Homo sapiens: one gene and its partners. The protein of the gene in region 1 interacts with the protein of each later gene in a pairwise test. Each region holds a gene or a part of one and is shown on either strand. Other genes may lie near its edges. The genes, in order: FXR2, PIM1, LASP1 and CAPRIN1.

Evidence for each region.
Region 2: the proteins of FXR2 (region 1) and PIM1 interact in binary tests that used the Homo sapiens proteins (3 or more experiments, as listed by UniProt).
Region 3: the proteins of FXR2 (region 1) and LASP1 interact in binary tests that used the Homo sapiens proteins (3 or more experiments, as listed by UniProt).
Region 4: the proteins of FXR2 (region 1) and CAPRIN1 interact in binary tests that used the Homo sapiens proteins (3 or more experiments, as listed by UniProt).

What each region holds. Positions count from the first base shown.
Region 1 is NC_000017.11:7,604,880-7,611,916, forward strand, and holds part of FXR2 (RNA-binding protein FXR2), read right to left. Parts: intron 6,395-7,037; exon of another isoform or gene 6,302-6,394; intron 1,271-6,301; coding exon 1,218-1,270; intron 860-1,217; coding exon 766-859; intron 1-765. UniProt on the Homo sapiens protein: mRNA-binding protein that acts as a regulator of mRNAs translation and/or stability, and which is required for adult hippocampal neurogenesis. Specifically binds to AU-rich elements (AREs) in the 3'-UTR of target mRNAs.
Region 2 is NC_000006.12:37,173,152-37,175,965, forward strand, and holds the end of PIM1 (serine/threonine-protein kinase pim-1), read left to right. Parts: coding exon 1-21; intron 22-782; coding exon 783-940; 3' UTR 941-2,277; downstream 2,278-2,814. UniProt on the Homo sapiens protein: Proto-oncogene with serine/threonine kinase activity involved in cell survival and cell proliferation and thus providing a selective advantage in tumorigenesis.
Region 3 is NC_000017.11:38,873,052-38,880,088, forward strand, and holds part of LASP1 (LIM and SH3 domain protein 1), read left to right. Parts: intron 1-828; exon of another isoform or gene 829-1,062; intron 1,063-5,034; coding exon 5,035-5,129; intron 5,130-7,037. UniProt on the Homo sapiens protein: Plays an important role in the regulation of dynamic actin-based, cytoskeletal activities.
Region 4 is NC_000011.10:34,047,695-34,054,733, forward strand, and holds the start of CAPRIN1 (caprin-1), read left to right. Parts: upstream 1-4,036; 5' UTR 4,037-4,177; intron 4,178-4,338; exon of another isoform or gene 4,339-4,430; intron 4,431-4,605; exon of another isoform or gene 4,606-4,726; coding exon 4,727-4,942; exon of another isoform or gene 4,943-5,633; intron 5,634-7,039. UniProt on the Homo sapiens protein: mRNA-binding protein that acts as a regulator of mRNAs transport, translation and/or stability, and which is involved in neurogenesis, synaptic plasticity in neurons and cell proliferation and migration in multiple cell types.

The DNA of each region.
Region 1 (7,037 bases):
CCCAGCTAATTTTTTGTATTTTTAGTAGAGATGGGGTTTCATCATGTTGGCCAGGCTGGTCTTGAACTCCTGACCTCAGGTGATCTGCCCCACTCGACCTCTCAAAGTGCTGGGATTTCAGGTGTGAGCCACTGCATCCAGCCTGGGATGTATCTTAAACCAAGGATACAAGAAACCAGAGGAAGGAACTAATTAAAATCAGAGGACGGCAGGGCATGGTGGCTCATGCCTGTAATCCCAGCACTTTGGGAAGCTGAGGCGGGTGGATCACCTGAAGTCAGAAATTCAAGACTAGCCTGGCCAACATGGTGAAACCATGTCTTTACAAAAATGCAAAAATTACCCGAGCATGATGGCAGGTGCTTGTAATCCCAGCTACTTGGGAGGCTGAGGTGGAAGAATTGCTTGAACCCAAGAGGCGGAGGTTGCAGTTAGCTGAGATCGCGCCACTGCACTCCAGCCTGGGCAACAGAGCAAGACTCCATCTCAAAACAACAACAACAACAACAACAAAAAAATCAGAGGGCACTGGATTTTAGATGTTGTTACCATAAATGGAAGGCAAATCGCCTGAAACTGGGGATGTTCCTGAGAGTTTGGCTGATCACAACAGTGATAAAAGGGGAACTGTTGCATTTTACATTTCCATAGGCTACATGGCTGGATATGGCTTAGTTGGGGAGGAAGGAACATGAACCAACCAGAGAAAAGCCTAGAATCCTGGGGAAAAGTGACATTTAGAAAGGTGTACTCCACAGCCCTTACCTCCACTTCATCCCCTTCTGTGATCTCCTTATTATAGTCAGCTGGAGGTGGTAGCCGGACATCCCCAAAAGGAATTTGTCTCTCACTCTGCCAGCTATAATAGAAACAATAATATGAAAAAGCTACTCTGACTGATATGGTTGCCCATTTCTTTACAAAAGGGTTATTGCCTCAGCTGGGCGAGTTCCACCTATCTGGATAATTAGAGGCTAAACCCCAGGCCCTGCTCCATAGTAGTGTCTTCCATCTCTTTCTAGACTCTAAATACTGGGTCAAATGCCCCCACCCTCACCAAATTCTCAGCCCTTTCCTCTCCTGGGATCCATATGAGTTCCCACCCAAACCCTCAGCTCTCCCAACCTATTACATGCCTCATAGGACTCAGCTGCCCCCTCTTCTCCACTCTCCTTCTAGGACCTAGTATGCTGGATTCTCTATTCCCAAGGTCTTACTTGTTTTCAAAGAAGATGGTGACAGAGTCTTCATGGACATCCTTCACAAAGCCCTAGAATGGATTTTAGAAAAAAGCAAAAAAAATAAAATGACCTTTTACTTCCACCTTAGCCATCAAGGGAATAAGACACCACAAAACCTTAAACTTGAGTTTTAGATAGGGACACAAGTGGTGTAATGAGACAGCCTGAAAGGCTGCACTGGGGAAAGAATATGGGCAGTCAAACAGAGAAAGGAAATGATATTGTCATGGAGAGGTGTATGTACCACCTGCATCAGAACAGCCTGGAAACCAATGATCTACTCAGGCTCCCACAGGGGCCTCCCTATCTGTCTGCCTCCTGTTGTGCTAAGCAGCCTGCCAGAGTTCAATTAAAATACCAACAACATTCAGCAAGGCTAAGAATATCCCATGAGACAGTGTGAGGCTGTCCTGGAACACCTAGAGGACATGAGGATCTGTCGAGAGAGAAGGGCCTACCTCCGCAATACAGCAAGAGATCTGAGCAGACTCGCTGCCCTGATGCATGGGTCCTAAGACAATAATCGGAACACTAGACAAGTTCAAAATTGTGATGAACACAATTTACAGAAGGAAAAATTAAGACTTAATTTAAAAACATCGGTTTTTTAATACTAGAATTGAATCTAGAATGACACTGATAATTTATAAAGGATAATAAAATTTATGGAAGACTCCAATCTTGATATTTTGACAAGAGCAAGAGGGATGACTGAACAGCTGATCCACCTCCTGTGGTCTGTGTCCTCACTAAGGAGGCCAAAGCCATGCATTCACCCCTATGCTCCCAATTTTTCTACCTTCTCCCTATTTTTCACATACAATTAGGGATTTCTAATTTTGAAAAAGGTCTAGCTTATGAATTTATTATTTTATCAACTGTGCTTTTGGTTTCATATCTAAGAAATCTTTGCCCAGGCCAGGCACAGTGGCTCACGCCTATAATCCCAGCACTTTGGGAGGACGAGGCAGGCAGATCACCTGAGGTCAGGAGTTCGAGACCAGCCTGCCAACATGGTGAAACCCCGTCTCTACTAAAAATACAAAAATTAGCCAGGTGTGGTGGTGCATGTCTGTAATCCCAGCTATTTGGGAGGCTGAGGAAAGAGAATCACTTGAACCTGAGAGTCAGAGGTTGCAGTGAGCCAAGATCATGCCATTGCACTCCAGCCTGGGCAACAAGAGCAAAACTCCATCTCAAAAAAAAAAAAAAGAAAAAGAAAAAGAAATCTTTGCCTAATCCAAGGCCACAAAGGTTTTCTCTTATGTCTTCTTCTTAAACTTTTAGTTTTTTGTTTTACATTTACATCTATAATCCTTTATTTTTAGACAGAGTCTCACTCTGTCACCCAGGCTGGAGTGTAATGGCGCAATCTTGGCCCACTGCAACCTCCACCCCCCGGGTTCAAGCAATTCTCCTGCCTCAGCCTCACGAGTAGCTGAGATTACAGGCAACCGCCACCACACCAGGCTAATTTTTTATATTTTTAGTAGAGACGGGGTTTCACCATCTTGGCCAGGTTGGTCTCGAACTCCTGACCTCAGGTGATCCATCTGCCTCAGCCTCCCAAAGCTGGAATTAAAGATGTGAGCCACTGTGCCCAGCCTATGATCCATTTTGAATTAAATTTTATATATAAGGTGAGGTATTGATCAATGTTTTTTAAATTTTTAAATTCTTATTTATTTTTTTGAGACAGAGTTTCGCTCTTGTTGCCCACGCTGGAGTGCAATGGTGCAACCTTGGCTCACCGCAACCTCCGCCTCCCAGGTTCAAGCAATTCTGCCTCAGCCTCCCAAGTAGCTGGGATTACAGGCATGGGCCACGACCCTGGCTAATTCTGTATTTTTAAGAGAGACAGGGTTTCTCCATGTTCGTCAGACTGGTCTCAAACTCCCGACCTCTGGTGATCCACCCGCCTCAGCCTCCCAAAGTGCTGGGATTACAGGTATGAACCATCGCACCAGGCCACTTTTTTTTATTTTTAATATATTTTTAAATTAAAATTTTTTTTTAATAGAGACAGGGTTTCGCTATGTTGCCCAGGCTGGTCTTGAACTCCTGGACTCAAGCAATGCACCCGCCTTAGCCTCCAAGAATGTTGGAATTACAGGTGTGACCACTGTGCCCAGCCCATTTTTTACCTAAAGATATCTTGTTCCAGCACTGTCTGTTGAAGACTATCCTTTCTGGCCAGGGGCGGTAGCACACGCCTGTAATCCCAACACTGGGAGGCCGAGGCTGGCAGATCAGCTGAGGCCATGAGTTCGAGACTAGTCTGGCCAATATGGCAAAATCCCATTGCTACTAAAAAAAAAAAAAAATAATAATAATAATAATATATAAATTAGCCAGGCGTGGTGGCACATGGCTGTAACCTCAGTTATTCAGGGTGGCTGAGGCATGAAAATCACTTGAAGCCAGGAGTTAGAGACTGCAGTCAGTCAAGATCATGCCATCGCACTGCAGCCTGGACAACAGGGCAAACTCTGCCTCAAAAAAAAAAAAAGAAGAAAAGAAGAAAAGAAAAGACAAGACTATCCTTTCTTAGCTGAATTGAACTGCCTTTTCATTTCTATCGAAAATCAGGAAGGGCAATTTAATGTATAATGACAGAAGATTGGTAGTTGATGGAGGACTTTTGGGAGTGACAGAAATGTTCATTCCTTTGATTGCAGTGATGGACTCAGTTACATACATGTCAAAACTTAACAAATGGCACACTTTAAATATGTCTACTTTGTTGTATGTCAATTTCAGCTCAATAAAGATGTTTTTTAAAAAAATTAGAGAGCCCATACAACACAGGGAAACCTCATCTCTGCAAAAAATTTATAAATTAGCAGGGTATGATGGCTTGTGCCTGTAGTCCCAGCTATTTAGGAGGCTAAGGTGGGAGGATCACTTGAGCCAGGGAGGTCGAGGCTGTGATGAGCTGTGATTGCACCACTGCACTCCATAGCTTGGGCAACACAGCAAGACCGTGACTCAAAAAACAAAATAAATAAACAAAAATAAAAGAATTAGAGGTTTCAAAAGGCTAATACACAAGAACTATTCATGAGCTTTGCTGCTAGGGACAAAGGCTAAGCTTAGGAGAGAAAACACCAAAAATGCCCTTGGCAAATGCACAGCTCCCACCTCATAGAACTAATCAATCACAAACACTTACCAGATTGCTATTTCCTTACGATGGGAAAATCTAAGCCTGCATTTCACTCTTCATACAAGCCACCTTTCTCGTCTTTAGGGATATGTCTTGCTATAGAGGCTGCAGTCAGTCAAGATCATTCTTGACTGAATGTTCTTTCTTAGAGCCTTACTACTGCCCAAGGCTTTAATTACTACTGGTACTTCCTGGCCTCTTTTTTACCCATGCTTTTTCTTTCTCTGACATTCTCTTCTCCAGAAATGTTTTTTCTACTCTTCATTCAGATTTTTTTCCTTTTTCAAAAAGAACCTGAGTTATGAGCATGTTCATTCAGGTTTAATGCCAACTCCTACTGTTCTCCATTCAAGTCTTCTGAGGCACTTTTACTTCTACTTGCCTGGGTCTCTCTTCCCTTTTGGGTTCTTCCCTTAGCTCCTGCTCAAGTGTCCTCCCCACTCCCACAACCACTAATATTTTATCCATTCCCTCTTCTTTTCCCTGTAATCCCAACACTTGGAGGCCGAGGTCGGTAGATCAGCTGAGGCCAGGAGTTCGAGACCAGTCTGGCCAATATGGCAAAACCCCATTGCTACTATATATATATGTATACATATACATATATATACACATACATATATATGTATATATACATGTATATGTATATATATACATGTATATGTATACATATATATACATGTATATGTATACATATATATATACATGTATATGTATACATATATATATACATGTATATGTATACATGTATGTATATATATACACACACACACACACACATATATATAAATTAGCCAGGCGTGGTGGCACATGGCTGTAACCTCAGCTATTCAGGGTGGCTGAGATATGAGAATCACTTGAAGCCAGGAGGCAGAGGCTGCAGGGTCGTCTGGATTTCTAGAATTATTCCAACCAGCCTCTTCCGCTGACTTTATCCAGTTCTTTACCCAAAATGTCTACTCCAAGCCTTAGAAGTAGTTTATCAAGGCAGGAGTTACACTGACAGAAAGAAGTGGAAAAGAGACAGAGATGAGAATCACTAATTTACTGCTTTTGTGGAGAGATTTCTACTCCTAGATATATTCAAATCGGCTATGCCTATGGTGTAATCCAATTCTCCTCCACCATGTTAGGCTTGGCCCCAGGGTGAGCAGCAATATTACCCTAGTTTTCCCAGCTACCATGACTTCCAAGGCAGAAATGCAAAGCTCAGAATGGAGTAATCTCTCACATTACTCAGCAGTTCAACCAAATCTCACTCAACCCTTATATTTCCAGGGTCTTTTTCCTTCAATTAGTCTCCAAAACTAGCTCTGTCCCCAACTTCATATTCCAATCCTGTCTCTGCTCCTAAATTCCACCCATTCATCCCATACTAGTTTTTTTCTCCAAGGGTATCTGTGGTGGAAGTGAGCCCCAAGTTCTGCTCAGTCTACGCTCATTGTGAAAATAAGCAGGTGAAGGCAAGAGCAGGTGGGTGGAATGTATTAGGGAGCCACCTAGATCCAGAGGATAACTTGATTCAGTGGCCATAGCATCACCTGGCTTTGGCTTCTGGAGCCTGGCACCAAGCCAGCAGAGGAAGAGAGAGCCCCAGGTTCCTAGGTACTTTGGTTTCCTCAAATTAGAAGATATAAAATTGGTCCCCACCTTCACCGTCTTCTAGTTCTAGACTCCCAAAGCAAAGGAGGGGGTTCTAGGAGAAGAGCAGGAACAGTCTGAGTAAAAACCAAGTACTGAAGCTGAGGATGCCATGTTGATTAAGAAAGGAATGGGGATTAGGATATCCAGATGAGGTTTGGAGTAGGAAGATTGCGCCCTGGACGGTGAATACTTCATTTGGGAGAGTACAACTTAAAGAATAAAATACATTAGGCCATTTTGTACGTCTTAAGCCATTTTGTACGTCTTAAGCATGATGACTGCGGTTTCAAGCTCACGGTGAGGTATGCCTCCCTCAACCCTTGTTACGGATGCCAGTCTGACATGAAAAAAAAAAGGACGGAAAAAAAGAGTAAATTCTGACAAACTTAATTTTCAGATAGCTACAAAATAACTTAGATCCCAGATCTAATATTTTATCCTTTAAGAAAACTGACGGGAGGGCGTGGTGGCTCACGCCTGTAATCCCAGCACCTTGGGAGGCCAAGGCGGGCGAATCTCTTGAAGTCAGGAGTCAGAAACCAGCCTGGCCAACATAGCGAAACCCCGTCTCTACTGAAAATACAAAAATTAGCCAGGCATGGTGTTGCACACCTGTAATCCCAGCTACTCGGGAGGCTGAGGCACAAGAATCACTTGAACCTGGGAGGCGGAGGCTGCAGTGAGACGACATCACGCCACTGTACTCCAGCCTGGATGACAGAGGGAGACCCTGTCTCAAATAAAAAAAAAAGGAAAAGAAAGAAAAGAAAACTGACAACAGGGCCCAATTCTGAGAGAGGAGAAAGGGACCTTCCCAAATGTACAATTCCAGAAGCAGTGTAAATACTCCCTGACCCATCCCAAGTTTGCTGAGTCATGAATATTAAATCAGCAGCAAGGTCAAAACGGATAAGTATCTGTAGGGTACTGAGAGTGGAAGATTAGCCTGAATTTAGGGATTTGTGGTTTTTAACTCAGGAACAGGG
Region 2 (2,814 bases), on another chromosome or scaffold:
TCAGGCAGAGGGTCTCTTCAGGTAACTGATGGAAACCCCTGGCCATGGGGTTATTGGTCTTAATGGGGCTATTAGTCTTCATGGGACAGTCTTTGAAATTCTGGAGAGCTTCACTCTCCAGTAGATTCTGTCACCCTTGGCTTAGAATTGTAGGTGAGTGATTTACACTTGAGCTGGCCTCATAAATCACATGGTTTGCACTTGAGCTTTCCTTGGGAGGTCAGAGGAAGGCATGTGTGAGCATATTAAGAAGAAAAGACAATCTGGCTTCTCCAAAAACTTTTTTAAAGGTACCAACAGAAACCTGATAATTCCTGGCTGTTTTGCCAGGGAGTAAAAAGTTAAAAGCTCTTTTAGCATCTTCTTTAAGGCAGCAGCTCCAAATATTTTGGTACCAGTGACCTCACTGTGGGTGGTGTTCGTGTTTGTAAGTTGGTAGGTGAATTGAATCATTTCATCATGCTCAGTGGTGTCTCATCAAAATCTCTTGTCATCATCCTTCCTATTTCTGGTGAGTGGGTGTTGTGGGAAAGGCCCCCACTATTGAAGTTTGAAAACCACAGGTTTAAGAGGGGAGTCAGTTTTTAGCTGAAAGCAGACTGGAGGACCCAGATATTAGTCAATACCTTCCTATTGAAGGGTACCCAGCACAGTGTTCTAGAAAATGCTTGGCCTCCCTGGGACCCCAGACTTGTGGGCCTCTGAGAAGCAAATGGGGAAGACCTTTGCAGTGTAAAAACAAGTTGAGTCATTCATAACCTCGTCTATCCTCCTTTCTGCAGAATGTCAGCATCTCATTAGATGGTGCTTGGCCCTGAGACCATCAGATAGGCCAACCTTCGAAGAAATCCAGAACCATCCATGGATGCAAGATGTTCTCCTGCCCCAGGAAACTGCTGAGATCCACCTCCACAGCCTGTCGCCGGGGCCCAGCAAATAGCAGCCTTTCTGGCAGGTCCTCCCCTCTCTTGTCAGATGCCCGAGGGAGGGGAAGCTTCTGTCTCCAGCTTCCCGAGTACCAGTGACACGTCTCGCCAAGCAGGACAGTGCTTGATACAGGAACAACATTTACAACTCATTCCAGATCCCAGGCCCCTGGAGGCTGCCTCCCAACAGTGGGGAAGAGTGACTCTCCAGGGGTCCTAGGCCTCAACTCCTCCCATAGATACTCTCTTCTTCTCATAGGTGTCCAGCATTGCTGGACTCTGAAATATCCCGGGGGTGGGGGGTGGGGGTGGGTCAGAACCCTGCCATGGAACTGTTTCCTTCATCATGAGTTCTGCTGAATGCCGCGATGGGTCAGGTAGGGGGGAAACAGGTTGGGATGGGATAGGACTAGCACCATTTTAAGTCCCTGTCACCTCTTCCGACTCTTTCTGAGTGCCTTCTGTGGGGACTCCGGCTGTGCTGGGAGAAATACTTGAACTTGCCTCTTTTACCTGCTGCTTCTCCAAAAATCTGCCTGGGTTTTGTTCCCTATTTTTCTCTCCTGTCCTCCCTCACCCCCTCCTTCATATGAAAGGTGCCATGGAAGAGGCTACAGGGCCAAACGCTGAGCCACCTGCCCTTTTTTCTGCCTCCTTTAGTAAAACTCCGAGTGAACTGGTCTTCCTTTTTGGTTTTTACTTAACTGTTTCAAAGCCAAGACCTCACACACACAAAAAATGCACAAACAATGCAATCAACAGAAAAGCTGTAAATGTGTGTACAGTTGGCATGGTAGTATACAAAAAGATTGTAGTGGATCTAATTTTTAAGAAATTTTGCCTTTAAGTTATTTTACCTGTTTTTGTTTCTTGTTTTGAAAGATGCGCATTCTAACCTGGAGGTCAATGTTATGTATTTATTTATTTATTTATTTGGTTCCCTTCCTATTCCAAGCTTCCATAGCTGCTGCCCTAGTTTTCTTTCCTCCTTTCCTCCTCTGACTTGGGGACCTTTTGGGGGAGGGCTGCGACGCTTGCTCTGTTTGTGGGGTGACGGGACTCAGGCGGGACAGTGCTGCAGCTCCCTGGCTTCTGTGGGGCCCCTCACCTACTTACCCAGGTGGGTCCCGGCTCTGTGGGTGATGGGGAGGGGCATTGCTGACTGTGTATATAGGATAATTATGAAAAGCAGTTCTGGATGGTGTGCCTTCCAGATCCTCTCTGGGGCTGTGTTTTGAGCAGCAGGTAGCCTGCTGGTTTTATCTGAGTGAAATACTGTACAGGGGAATAAAAGAGATCTTATTTTTTTTTTTATACTTGGCGTTTTTTGAATAAAAACCTTTTGTCTTAACTCGTGGCTTCTAATCGTCTGTGCGGAGGCATTGCTAACCTGCATTTATTGAGCATTTGGTAAGTGCCAAAGAATTGTAGGAGAAAGGAATTCTCAGCCTAAATCTGGCTTCCTTCAACATTGGGATTTCTAGGATAGTCATCTTCCTGAAACGAATGTATGGTCAAGGGGTAGGACCAGTATTGTCAAAATTTGGGCAATATCTGGCATGGGAGGCCTAATAAAATAACCTTTTCCAGATTACAATTTTAAAGCTATGCAAATAGGATAGATGTGACAATTTTCAAGTGTTCAATAGCCATTTATGGCTAGTGGCCACCTCATATAAAACATCATTGCAGAAAGTTCTATTGGATGGGGCTGATCTAGAGATAACAAATACATACCTATTACCAAACTAACCCTTGAAGCTTTTATCAGTTGTCTGCCACTGATAGTAAAACATTTTGAGCATGTCCCCTTGGTACACGTGAAGTTTATTGAAAAACTATTGCCTCTATTACTCTCGGTTCCTGATTCAAGTTTCCTTCACCTTTA
Region 3 (7,037 bases), about 31 Mb from region 1:
GTGCACCTGCTTTGTATCTAGGGAGCTGTGTTGTCAAGAACCTCGCCACGTCCCTCTTTCCTGGCTTGCTTCCCCAGGTTTCTGAAAACAGGTGGAGGTAGAGGATTGGTCTGCTGCCAGTTCCCCTGGAATCCCCTGTTAGGGTGGGCTCTCTGCCTCTGCTTGTCTCAGCGCTCCCTCCCCACTCGAGGGGGTTGAAGTCCTCACAGCTGTGGTGCCCCGTTTTGCTAGCTGAAGCTTAGAGTACCCCACCATCATCTTGTGACCATCCCTTCATAATAGCTACTAGTTATCACGATATGCTGGGCTCAGTCTTCACAGCAGCCTCACAAAGTAGGTGTATTCGCTCTTGTAAACGATGCACTCCATAAATGGAGGCTCAGGTAGCCCATGTGGCTCATCTCCCTCTCTTAGAGCTGAAATTCACATCCACAGTTCTTTCTGCTCAGCTCTTCTGCCAGTGTGTTTGCAGAAAGTACTTTTATTTATACATATTTATATTTTATTTACATCTCATTTGTGCCAAAAGTAGGTCCCATCCCTTCCTGACCCTATCTGGAGGAATGCTCTGGGCCTGGGGTCTTGTATGGGGGCGTGGGGCCACTGGGAATAATCCTGTCCTCCTCGGAATTTGTGGAGGTGCAGCAAAGATCTATGCCTTTAAGCCAGCGGGTCAGGTGGCCAACCAAGCTAGGCTGGTGCCCCGGCCAGGGTGGGGCTGGCATTGCCTCTGCAGGAGGGAGAAACTGTAACCCTGGGCAACAGGAAGGGAAGAGATGGTCTCATAATCCATCCCTGAGTCATGGCCACCCCAGGTAGCCTGGGTTCAGAGGCCAAGGTGCCAGGCTGCAGGCACAGTGACACGAAGCTTGCCACATCCCCCCCAACCCAGAGCCACAGAGGGACAGGCTGTCCCAAGTGAGGGGTATCCTTGCAGGCTTCTGCCCCTACCAGCCTGTTTACCTTTCTTTAGAGTGGGTTGCAGGTAGGCAAGGGAAGATCAAGATGACCCTGCCTTGGAGCCTCGGATCCAGGCTGAGAGGCCTCTAACAGGCAGCAGAGGTAGGGTCTGTCTGGTTTCTGTGAACAGGGAAGCCATGGACTTTGCAGGCAGCAGGAAGGGGCAGAGGTGCATGCCTCGAGGTGCAGTTTCCTTGAGTCCTGAGGCCCAGGAATGCTTCGCTGAAATCATCTTGCCTGGGGCCTTTAAAAGAGGGGGGCTCTTGCTCTGGGACAGAGCCCATGGGGCAGGGCAGAGGCAGACGGGGTCACTGTGGGGTCCTCTGGACATATTTCCCTGACAGTGTCCTTCCCCAGACCCCATTGAGACAAGGCAGGAGTTCTTTCATCTTAGGGTCCAGGCTTGGCTCACAGCGGTTGTGGAGGGACTGGCCATTTTCTGCCTCCCCTCCCCACAATTTTCCTACCCCAAAAAGGACACAGTGGAAGGAGCTGGTGGGTTTTCTTGAACCTTGGGGCCTTCCTCCAGAGAGGGTAGGGGAGTCGCCTGAAGCTGCTGGAGGTGCCAAGCATTAGGGGTGGAACGGCCTCCTCTCCTGACCTTCCAGCACTCTGGGAGACAGTGGCTGCAGCTCCACTTGACACTTGTGCTTCATAGTAACTGGTTTCCATGTTTCTGCTCAGAGCCCCCTGCAGGGGGACAGGCGACCACCCTCCTCTGCCCCACCCTTGGGTGTCTGGATGAGAGTGTGGGGCCTGTGAGGGAGGTGGGAAGGAGCTACTGATAGAAATAGGTGCCATCCCCTAGAAGAGGGGCTCTGCTTCCTCCGCGTGGCAGCCTGGAGGGGTCTTTGGAACCACTGGGTCCAGTGTTGGCCCTGTGCCCCCTGCCTGCTCAGTACACCCCACCCTCCTTCTCCAAGGGGCTTGGCTCCGGGTGCAGGCCTGGCCATCTGGAGTAGGGGTCTCTCTCCCTTTGTCTCCCCAACGTCAATCAGGAGGCAGCCTTGGAGGTCCGTGGTCCTAGGACAGTGTGTAGCCCTTCGTGTGTGTGTGTGTGTGTGTGTGTGTGTGTGTGAGAAAGTGGGTCATGGTCTGGATTCTGGAGAATGTTTTTCCTGGCAGGCCCCTGTGGGGGTAGGGGGAGGCAGGGGCCCAGGCAGGGGCCTAGGCAGGGGCCTGTGCAGCTAAGTAGGCAGAGGCCAGCAGACTGGGTGGTGACCAGGCTGGGGCACCCTGCCAATGCCTCCCAGTTACTCGGGGAGGGAGTGGGGCTGTCACTTCAGGGGCCTGTGGGGGCAGGGACCAGCCTGTCTTAGTGTCCCTGGTGGGTTCTGTGTGTTGGGGTATGCACCACTTCAGGGGCCTGTGGGGGCAGGGACCAGTCTGTCTTAGTGTCCCGGTGGGTTCTGTCTATTGGGTTATGCACCAGAAGGAGTCTTTAAGTTGCCTCATAGGAGTTTGGGGGCCCTGGGTCACTGGGATAGGCCCAGGTTGGGGAGGGGGCCAAGCTTAGACCCGCCACTTCTTTGCTTCCAGACTTCCGGCTGGCCGTCCTCCCCAAGAGTGGTTCTCCTAGCATTCTGTTTAATATTCCACCATTAGGTTTTTCCTTTGGGTCTTCTTGATAGGGAACCAGTACCCTATTAGAAGGTGATTTCCCCCTGAAATTACCCTGGGGGTCTCTGGTTGAAGTGGGCCATGGTAGGGAGGTTGAATCCCAGATTCTCAGCCTTCTTTCTGCTATCCCCTCCTCCCAGTGTCTCAGAAGCACCTCTCCCTCCGGGGGTTTGGAGACAACATTTTGAAAAGCATCGCCTTGGGGGAATTCCTTGACAAATGGCCAAGAACCAGCTCTGTGGCTGGGCTCCTTCAAAAGTCCCCCTGGGCCTGCCTCCTGGCCTCCTTCTTTTGGAATGGGGAATGTCTCCCTTGACTACTGGGAAATGGGGCAGGGACAGGCCAGCCAGGTCACTCAGGTGGCCTGGATTATTCTGGGGTCCTGGCAGTGGACCCCTGTTTGGTGGTGATCCAGCACATCATCCTGGGCTTCTGGGGGTGAATTTAGATCCTGTTGTCATGGGTTTGCCTAAGCATCAATACTTCTCAGGGGTTCCACAAAGACCCCTCCAGGCTGCCACGTGGAGCCTGTTAGATCGTTTCTCTTTTTTTTTTTTTTTTTTTTGAGACAGAGTCTTGCTCTGTCACCCAGGCTGGAGTGCAGTGGCACAATCTTGGCTCACTGCAACCTCCACCTCCTGGGTTTAAGTGATTCTTTTGCCTCAGCCTCCCAAGTAGCTGGAATTACAGGCATGCGCCACCATACCCGGCCTATTTATTTATTTATTTATTTATTTATTTATTTTTGAGATTAAGTCTCGCTCTATACCCCAGGCTGGAGTGCAGTGGCATGATCTCAGCTCACCGCAATCTCTGCCTCCTGGGTTCAAGCGATTCTCCTGCCTCAGCCTCCCGAGTAGCTGGGATTACAGGCACGCCGTCACTGCACCCGGCTAATTTTTTTGTATTTTTAGTAGATACGGGGTTTCACCATGTTGGCCAGGCTGGTCTTGAACTCCCAACCTCCAGTAATCCGCCTGCCACAGCCTCCCGAAGTGCTCGGATTATAGGCGTGAGCCACCGCTCCCGGCTAGATCTGTTCTCTTTCTGTCATCACTCTCTTCCCTCCGTCGGCCACCCTGGATGGGCCCTGTGTCCCACATTCTCTTTTTTTTTTTTGAGACGGAGTCTTGCTCTGTCACCCAGACTGGAGTGCAGTGGCCTGGGTTCACGCCATTCTCCTGCCTCAGCCTCCCAAGTAGCTGGGACTACAGGCACCCGCCACCACGCCTGGCTAATTTTTTTGTCTTTTTAGTAGAGATGGGGTTTCACCATGTTAGCCAGGATGGTCTCGATCTCTTGACCTCATGATCCGCCCGCCTCGGCCTCCCAAAGTGCGGGATTACAGGCGTGAGCCACCGTGCCCGGCCGTGTCCCACATTCTCACACGCATGAATGGATTGGAGCTGTGGTTGGCACAGTGAAGCCCCTCTGCACCCCAACACACACAATCTCCAGTGTGAGCCCTGACCCCCTCGGCTAAGGTTCACACCTGCTGTGCCCAGCACCTGACATCTGAGTGCTCAGAGGTGCCAAGTGCTGTGCTGAGGGCTTTGAAGGTGATTTCTCCTCAGTCCTGGACAATCCCAGGAGGGCCAGGTGTTATTACATCCATTGTACACACCAGGAAGTGGGCTCCTCTGAGGTGCAGGGCCCCGCCCAAGGCCATACAGTTAGTGGGGTAGAGCTTTGATGTCCACTATAGGGGTGTCCACCTTCAAGGCTTTGAAGTAGAGCCCTTCAGTGCCTCAGTGGGAGACCCGCTGCCGGGTGCTCTCCTGCCCTCCTCCTGGGGTGGGAGAGGATGAGGGAAGGGTAGAAAGGATGTGTTGTGTTGACAGAGCCTGGGACACCCAGCCCACTCCTCTGGCCAGGCATCCCACAGGAAGTGGGAGGTATCGGAGCTGTAGCACCACCTGGGGCTCATGTGGGGCTGGTGGGTGTGCTGGGCCCTGGTACAGGAGCTAGGAGCACCTGGGTTCTGGGCCTGGGTGTGTGGGGGCTGGGCCTTCCTCTTCTGAGGCCTTGGTGCCACCAGAGGAGCTGCTCCTTCATGTTCAGCGGCTGCTCCCTAGCAACCCAGCGCAGCTTTGCATAAGCAATGAGGCCTCGCCAGCTCTGGGCAGGAGGGGTTCCCTGGGGAGGGTGGAGCTGACTTGGGGGCTGCTGCCACTGCTATAACTGGGCTCTTCCCCCCTGTCCTTCATGCCTGCCTGTCTCTTCCTCCTGGGTTCAAATGGCCCATTGGTGGAGGATGAGGAAGGAGAGAGGGGAGGGGAGTGCCAAAGCCTGTGACCTGAAATGCCCCCAGCTCACCTGGGATGATTCCATGTTCTCCCCACAGCCATGGGCCTAGGACAGTCCCAGCAGCTCCTGAGTGCCCCTTCCTAGGGCCTGAGCCCCTTTTTCAGAAGTCCTGGTATCTGATGTATGTCCTCCTGTCTCCATCCCCAGTTCTGGCATAAAGCATGCTTCCATTGCGAGACCTGCAAGATGACACTGAACATGAAGAACTACAAGGGCTACGAGAAGAAGCCCTACTGCAACGCGTGAGTCCTGTTCTGGGCAGGGGGCTGGGTGGGCACCTTGGCTCCCTCCCCGAGTGAGTTCTTCCTTTCCTTCCAATAACCGCAAGGTGACATTGGCGAACACTTCCATCCCCTACTTGAACATCACAGTTTGTCCTCACAACAGCTGAATGAAGCAAGCACTTTTTATCCCCATTTAAAGTGCTTTTATCCCCCATTTAAAGTGCATTTAAAGTACAGATGAGGAAACTGGGGCTTAGGGAAGGGAAGAGACTCTCAAGGTGGGATGGCTAGGGCAAGACAGGCTCTAACCCAATTTCGGGCAGTAAGGCGAGCACGTTTCTTTCCACTGTCCCCTGCTACAAAAGAGGGGGCTTTCCTCGTGGTCTTTCAAGAATGAGTGACGTGTCTGTTGTATTTGGGGTTGAGGACTTTGTTCTGTTTACCTTCCCTTATTTCTCTCCTCAAAATCGACAGTTTCCTTCTCTCACCTGGGTACTTCTAGGCTTTGGGGGCTCCTTCCTCCAGTGGTTCCTTCAAGAAAACTCTCTGGAAGCCTCATGCCAGCCCTTTTGGTGTTCATTTTTTGAGAATGGGCAGGGGTGCATAAAGGGTGTTGCCTGGGCCAGATAGATCTCTTCCCTGCCTGGTGAGGGAGGCTGTGGAGACTGTTTCTTTTGAGTATAGTCATCTTGAGTATAGTGCAGCTCTGTTCCTTCTGCACTGGGACCTGCAGCAGCTGACGGTAGGGAGGGAGTATAGAGGTGGGGTCCCCCATCCCAGAGCCTGGAGGAATACCTCCCCTCCCATCCCATCCCATCCCATCCCATGCAATCCCAGAAAGTACAGCAATTTTCCATCTTCCAATTGACCTTGTGAGTAGCAAGTACAAACTCAGTGTTGGGGCCTCACAGCCGCCTCCACCTGCGAGGTGGAGGCTTTGGAAGGTCAAGTCACTTATAAGTAATGATGTAATGATAATTTCTTTTTCTTTTAATTTGCTTTTTTTTTTTTTTTTGAGTCAGAGGACTCATCACCCAGGTTGGAGTGCAGTGGCGCGATCTTGGCTCACTGCAACCTCCGCCTCTTGGATTCAAGCGATTCTTGTACCTAAGCCTCCTGAGTAGCTGGGATTACAGATGCATGCTACCATGCCCAGCTAATTTTTGTATTTTTTAGTAGAGACCGGGGTTTCACCGTGTTGGCCAGGCTGGTCTCGAACTCCTGACCTCAAGTGATGCACCGCCTCAGCCTCCCAAAGTGCTGGGATTACAGGTATAAGCCACCTCGCCCAGCCTTAATTCGATTTTTTTTTTAATTTTAACTTTTTTTTTTTTAACTTCAACCAACTCAAGTAATGGTAATTTCAGTGTTCACATGAATTTAGGATCTGACTTGAGTCCAGTTTTTTTTTTTTTTCTCTTAATTCTCAGTCAGGAGGCTCTTTGCAGCTGAAGTTCACCCAGGGAAAAAAAAATTTGGGACTTGTCTAAAAAGGGGGCTTAAACCTCCAGCCTTACCCCTAACCTTACCCCAAACCTTCCTTGCTTCCTTACCCCCTCCCGTTCCCTGGCTAAGACCACTCTTTCATCTTTTTAGGGGCTCGCTCATTCAGCAGACATTTATTGCCTGCCTGCTGCTATAATACATACTAACCTGCACCAGGTGCTGGGAAAACAGATTCCTGATAAAAATCTCAAGCCCAAGAAGCAACATGAAGTTGTCCCTTCTGGAAGAAGGAGGGCACTGGGCAGGTTATCTGGGTAAAGGAAGGGTTGCAGCTCTGTCCTGGCCCCTCCTTCAGCTGCCCCTTCTCTTCTATTAATTTCTACTGTTCCTCTTCCCCCTACCAACCCCTCCCACCCCCACAAGGGAAATGGGACATTCTTCGAATTCTTAAGGGCTCACACAAGCCCTGGTTCTCTGCCA
Region 4 (7,039 bases), on another chromosome or scaffold:
AGCTGAGATCTTGCCACTGCACTCCAGCCTGGGCGACAGAATGATACTCCATCTCAAAAAAATAAATAAATAAAATAAAATAAAAATAAAATTTTTATTTTTTAGATGCTGGGTTTTACTCTGTTGTCCACGCTGGAGTGTAGTGACATGATATTGCATCCTCGAACTACTGGGCTCAACTAATGCTCTCATTTCAGCCTCCCGAGTAGCTGGGATTTCAAGCACATACCACTGTGTTTACTTTTACATTGAGTAAAGTGTGTAGCTTCTAAGAGTGTTCAATAACAAACAACAGTATTTCGTGAAATCTGAAATAACTATTCTGAACATATTGTACCTCTACAAAACATGAAGTCCTGTTTCTAAGCATAATATTACACGCAAGAAAAGGTGGACATAGGAAAATATAAGCGGAAAAGGATGTTATCTCAGCTGATGACCAAAATGTAAGAATTCAGAGACAGTATGGACCAATAGTAATAATAATATTAAAACCGTACTGATATGTTAATACAGTAGGCAATACTTAGTGACAAAATAGTTGTGCCAGGCATGCTATTGCTTATGAGGATCCAGAGATGGAAAAACAAAACGACTGCTCTTTTTCTTTGAAAAGCTTAGAGTTTAGTGGTGGTTCATGGACACATAGACAATCATTGATTGAATTACAATAAAAAAGACTGTACTGGAAAAATTATGATAGAAATGTCTACTCCTGACTTGTAGTAAAATGATGGAAAAACAAATTTAAGAAACTTTAAGAGCCTTAGCTATGTGAACAGTGTAGTTCACACTTTGGTCAGGTTTCTGTCAACCTGAAACAAAGAGGCAGTTCATATAATTCAGATGAAGATTCCTCTCTTTTGCTACAAATAAGCATTAGCTTATTGGGTGACTCAAGTTCAAGCAGTTGAATTATTTTGCTAAAATGATCAGGATAAATAGTTTAATTATTCACTTTGTGGAAACTTCAAAGTGCTGTGGTCTAATGAATTGAACAAGCAAATGTCAGCTTGAAAGATTTGTTATTGAAATATATTATTTTGCATATTGTTGTATTTGCTTTATGTTAATATATTTAATATTGGCATATATTAAAGTATACCAAGGTTTTTAAATTTATAAACCATTTATAAACATATTCTGCTCCTCCAGTGTGTTTTCTGGGAACCCTTTATTTCTTCAATGATGCAATGACTGCAAGTTACTGCATAGCTCTGTACTAGAAAAAAGGGTTTAAAAAATGAGTATTTAAAATTCACATAAACATAGCTTCAGTCAAGTAGGAAATACACAAATTTGAATGACTGAGACCTTGGCATTGATCTGGGCAGGAAGTGAGCTTTAGGACACAGCTTTGCCTTAAATTTATTGGTCTTTCTGGACTTGCTGACCTGAACAGACAAACGCAGAATGTCAGAACACCAATGAAATGGGATTGGGATGATATAGGAAGTGAAAGCGTGACAGCTTCATATATTCACCAAATATTTCTGGCTCATCTGCTTCCTACCCGGCATCTGATAGAATACCATCTCTTGACTCCCTTATAGTTGGATAGGGTCATGTGACTCTTTTTGGCCAATGAATTTAAGCAGATGTGATGCATATCTACTTGTCTAAAGCATTTAATTGACTGAGATATTCCTGAGTTCTCTTGTGGTACAGTGATCAGCAACACTTGAGATATGGCATCAGCATGAATCTACTGAGTGACTACTACGAACAGGGCCCTCTGTTGAACTGTGATGGATGTGTACCATTTGCAGTTGTTTTTTGTTTTTTGAGACAGTCTCACTCTGTTGCTTAGGCTGGAATGCAGTGGCACAATCTTGGCTCACTGCAGCCTCTGCCTCCCGGGTTCTCGTGCCTCAACCTCCTGAGCAGCTGTAATTACAGGCATGCGCCACCACACCCAGCAAATTTTTTTGTATTTTTAGTAGAGACAGGATTTGCCATATTGGCCAGGCTGGTCTCGAACTCCTGACCTCAAGTGATCTGCCAGCCTTGGCTTCCCAAAGTGTTGGAATTACAGGCATGAGCCCCTTCACCTGGCCCCTTTGTAGTTTTAAACCAGGGATTGGCAAACACTTTTTTTGTAAAAGAAGAGATAGTATTCTAGGTTTTGCACACCCTACTGTCTGTTGCACACCCAAGTACTCAACTCTGCTGTGCTATGGCAGAGAGGCAGTCATAGAATGGATGTGCATAGATGGATTGGATGTCTCCCAATAAAACTTTAGACATTGGTCAATTCCGAGGAACAAAACAGTGATTTCTGAAACTTTAATGTACACACAAATCTCCTGAAGATCTTGTTAAAATGTAGATTCAGTTAAGTCTGCTATGCAGTCCAAGATAGTAGTGATAGTGGTAGTGAGAGAGGTTGGGCTGAATAAACTTTGAGTTGCAAGGAGCTAAAGGATTATCATCTCCGTTTCTAGCCTCTAGGCCTGGCATAATTGCTCAGCGTAGTGCTAAGGATGGTTTAGGTGACTAAATTTTGAAACTATGACTCCCCATCTAATGCAGCAAAAGCCAAAGTCCTTACCGTGGTCTTTCAGGCCCTACAAGACCAGCCCCCTTTAATATGTTTGACCTCATCTCCTACTCTCTGCTCTTGCCACTATGGTTTCCGTGCTGTTCCTTGAACCCAAAAAGCACACTCCGTCTCAGATCTTAGTACTTGGTGTTTCCTCTACCTGGAAAATTCCTCCTCCAAGGTAGCTGCTTAGCCTTCTTCCTCACTTCCTTCAGTACTAGCTCAAATGTCAGTAAGGCTTTCCCTGACCACCGTTTTTTCTTTTCTCTACCATTTCACTATCTGACATGTATTTACTTGTCTTCCCCTTACTTAGATTGTAAGCTCCATGTAAATATGTTTTGTTCATAATCCCTAGCACTTAAGAGTTCCCAGCACACAGTAAGGTGCTTAATAAATATTTGAATGAATATATAACAGACTTTGCAGCTAACCAGGATATCTTGAGGTCGGAGGCTGCTGTTGTTTCTCCAGGCTCCCTCAGGATGCACTGTTGCCAGTCAGCGTTACTCATTTTATTCCCTAGGGAACAGTGGGTTTGGTAGAACTCTCTTCTAAATCTCTTTTTCATAGAATTTAAATTATAAATTGGTCATTTACTGTTGTCACACAATATTGCGTTGCTGAATTTTCCACTGATTATATTCATTTTATTTCCTCCCAGAACTTGGTTTCTTGTTTTTCTGCTCACTGTCCACACCCACTCCACCCCAAGGCTGGAATAATTCTCTTGGAGCAAAAAAATCATCTTTTTCTTTGTATTTCATTGAACGTTCTCTTTACAGTGTTAGGTAAACCTAAAAAAAAAGGAAACAAAAGTCTAATAATTCGTAATACTCAGGCCTACTGGATGTATAACATCATAGGGTAGCTGAAGACTCTTTGTGAGGCCAGAGCTTTAGGATTTAAAAAGCCACCAACCATGACCGTGTCCGACACGTTCTACAGAGAACTCCTAGGTTACTGGGTGATTGTTTGGTGGGGAAGCGGCGAGTTGTCTTTTTTTCAAAAGACGTTTTGGGGTATGGAGTTTGCTCGCTCTGCATACAGAAGGAATTCTAGAAGCTGGGATCGCACCACCCACCCCACGCACCCCTTACTTGCAGAAACCTTTGCCCCCCAACCCCCACCCCCACCCCAAATAAGGGCTCTTCAAGGGGCAGTTGCCAGCTCCAGAGCCAGCTGCTTGACACCTATTGTCCCCGTTTGGGCGTCAAACGATTTCGCCTGAAGGACCCTAGCGTCGATTGCTCTCAAAACTCAAGGGGCCTTTCCTTCGGCCTTGCCGGGGCCATCCCCACCTGCGTCCAGGAGGCGCCCCACAGCGCCGGGGCCGGGGGACGGCGGAGAAGCTAGCGGGCGGCCTCTTCCGGGCAGGCGTTCGCGCCGGGCAGCCCGAGCGGCCGCGAAGGCCCCCGCTCTCCGCTTCTCCCGCCCCTCGCGACCCAGAGGGCTGCTGGCTGGCTAAGTCCCTCCCGCTCCCGGCTCTCGCCTCACTAGGAGCGGCTCTCGGTGCAGCGGGACAGGGCGAAGCGGCCTGCGCCCACGGAGCGCGCGACACTGCCCGGAAGGGACCACCACCCTTGCCCCCTCAGCTGCCCACTCGTGATTTCCAGCGGCCTCCGCGCGCGCACGGTGAGCGCCACCCGGGACCGAGCCGCTGCAGGGGAAGAGGGCCGCTGCGCCCGGGTGTCCTTTATCTCCGGACCCGCTGGAGCTTCCGAGGGGCTTGCCCCCAAGTCCCCCCACCCCACCCCGGTCATTTCCCATGCCCTTCTCTGCCCCCAAGCCCCGACCTCTCTCTTTCCTCCCTTCTCCGGAAGCCGGCAAAAGCCGGCCCTCCCCGGTAGGGACCGTTGCAGTGGCCGTTGGCGGCCGGCGCGGCGATGCCCCGCCTCCGGCGCGAGCCTCGGAGCCCCCGGGCTGGTAGGCCGAGCCGGCGGCTCCGCGGGGGAGGGGCGGGTCGGGGGGCGGTGCGAGGCCCAGCCGGGCGCCCCGCTGGCGGGTCGCGCGCGCGCCCGCGCACTCTTCCTGCCCTCGAGGCGCGCCGCGCCCCCTCCCCCACCCGCTCGCGTAGGCTACCGCTCGCTGCGCGTTTTGTCCCGCGTCTCGCCCCGTCCGTCTCCTGACTGGCCGCTCTTGTCCTTCCTCCCGCTTTTTCTTCTCTCTCCTTGCGGTCTGAAGATGCCCTCGGCCACCAGCCACAGCGGGAGCGGCAGCAAGTCGTCCGGACCGCCACCGCCGTCGGGTTCCTCCGGGAGTGAGGCGGCCGCGGGAGCCGGGGCCGCCGCGCCGGCTTCTCAGCACCCCGCAACCGGCACCGGCGCTGTCCAGACCGAGGCCATGAAGCAGATTCTCGGGGTGATCGACAAGAAACTTCGGAACCTGGAGAAGAAAAAGGTGCCAGGAGTTGGCGGGGAAGGGAGGGGTGGCTGCGGCCGGGCTCTGCGGCCCCTCCGACCCTGGTCGCTGGAGCCTTCGCTTCTTTTCGTCTCGGGAGCGTTACTAGGTCCCCTCCTCCCACCCCCTGGCCCACACGCCCCGTCTCCACGTTCAGCGGGAGCTTCGTGCCCAGAAAACGGGCTCTTGGAAGAGGCACTTGTCACCTGACTCGGACGCGGCACTGTACCCCAGGCCTCTTTATTACTCTTCCGCTGTGGGTCCGGCTTTTTGGCCTTTAGGAGTGGGACATGTGAGGGTGGGGGCCTGTCGTCAGGACTTCACTGTATGGTGCCCTTCTTTCCGTCTCTGAGGCCCGATTTCTCTGACGAGGGCCCAAAATGAAGAGGTCCCTGCGCGGGGGGCTCCGGGTTCAACCGACCGCCTCGTGGAGTTGGGGCGGCCTGCGTCCTGCAGCCTTGGGGTCTGTCCGCTCGGTTACCATGCACTCGAGACCTGTCGAGCGTCCCCTCTTCTTCCGTAGGAGAGAAGTGTGTTTAGAATCTTAAGGTAGAACTGCCTTTCCGGCAGGCCCATTTTGAATGGGTCTTCGATTTGCTACCCCCGCGCCCATGCGATGGGCTCCCCTGCGTTTCCCTCTTTGTTTCAATTGTTTAGGTGTCCCCCCGAGCCTCAGGCTCAGCTCAATCGCGAGATGATTTTCTGCAGCGACTTTTTGTTCCTAGGGGACTGTGAAGGGGCGGGGGACTGCCACGATTTAGATTCGTTGGGGGCTGGGTCCTGGGGAGACTGGAGAGGATGGCTGGGACTCGGGGCACATGGAGAGAGCGTCTAACATGGCGGCGGCTGCGGGGAGAGGGAAGCGCTTTACTGGAGCTGCATTGTGAGCACAAAGCGAAAGCAGAGGGGGAGGGCAGAGACCAGGCAGCCGCCCCGACTGGCCTCCTTAGGCCCCCCTCTAAAAAAAAAAAAAATCGAGCCACACCCACGATTTTTTGGATTCAATATTTAGTCCTTGTAGATCAAACTACTGAGGTATATCTTCATCTGCAAGTCAGCCTTTTGTTTTATGCTTTCATCGCAGGACAGTGTAAACTCTTGTTTAGAGGGGCGTGTGTATGTATGTAGAGAAAAGGTCTGGGCAGAGTGAATAATTAAAATGAGTAAGATCAGAGGTGGAAGGGGAGAAACAAATTAGTCGTTTGTAAAAACGAGGTAATTACGTCTGTGACTATCATGTTAACTTGAATTTTACCTTATAAAGTAAAATGAAGCCTTGATAACTTCTACTTGTCTGCCTCTAGGAAAACATATTTATAACATCTTGAATTTCCAGGAAATCATTTTGCAGTGTTTATGTGGCCAGACACCTAATAGTGTTACTTGAGGTGCTGATATAGTAACTGGCTAAAACTTGGGCTGTGGGAAATAAGTTGAAGAAAACTGGTGATGTTTAGGTCTTATTAATTTTACTTATATATTTTACATTTTGGGAGAGTTTTAAAACATTTAGATTTGATACTTCCCTGTTTCATCTTCGGTATTGAAGGTTGGAAGTTTTACTTGAATTTCATGGACTTGGGATTTCTTTTTTTTCCCAATCCTTTATTTTGATAAATGTATGTTTTATTATAGGTAATTGGAATAGTAAATGTAGTTACATCAAGAAAGTAACAAAAGTATTTTAAGTGTAAGGTAGCTACATTCAAATGTTGAATGGAATAAGCATGCCCAAGGCCAGTATCTTCTGAGTCTGACACATGATTTAGTTTACCCTGTTGGGTATCTTCTTAAATTTTTTTTTTTTTGAGACGGAGTTTCGATCTTTTTGCCCAGGCTGGAGTACAATGGCGCGATCTCAGCTCACTGCAACCTCCACCTCCCGGGTTCAAGCGATTCTCCTCCCTCAGCCTCCCAAGTAGCTGGGAGTACAGGTGCCTGCCACCACGCCCAGCTAATTTTTTGTATTTTTAGTAGAGACAGGGTTTCACCCTGTTGGCCAGGATTGTCTCGATCTCTTGACCTCCTGATCCGCCCGCCTTGGTCTTCCAAAGTGCTGTTACAGGAGTGAGCCCCTGTGCCCGGCCTCTTTTTAAA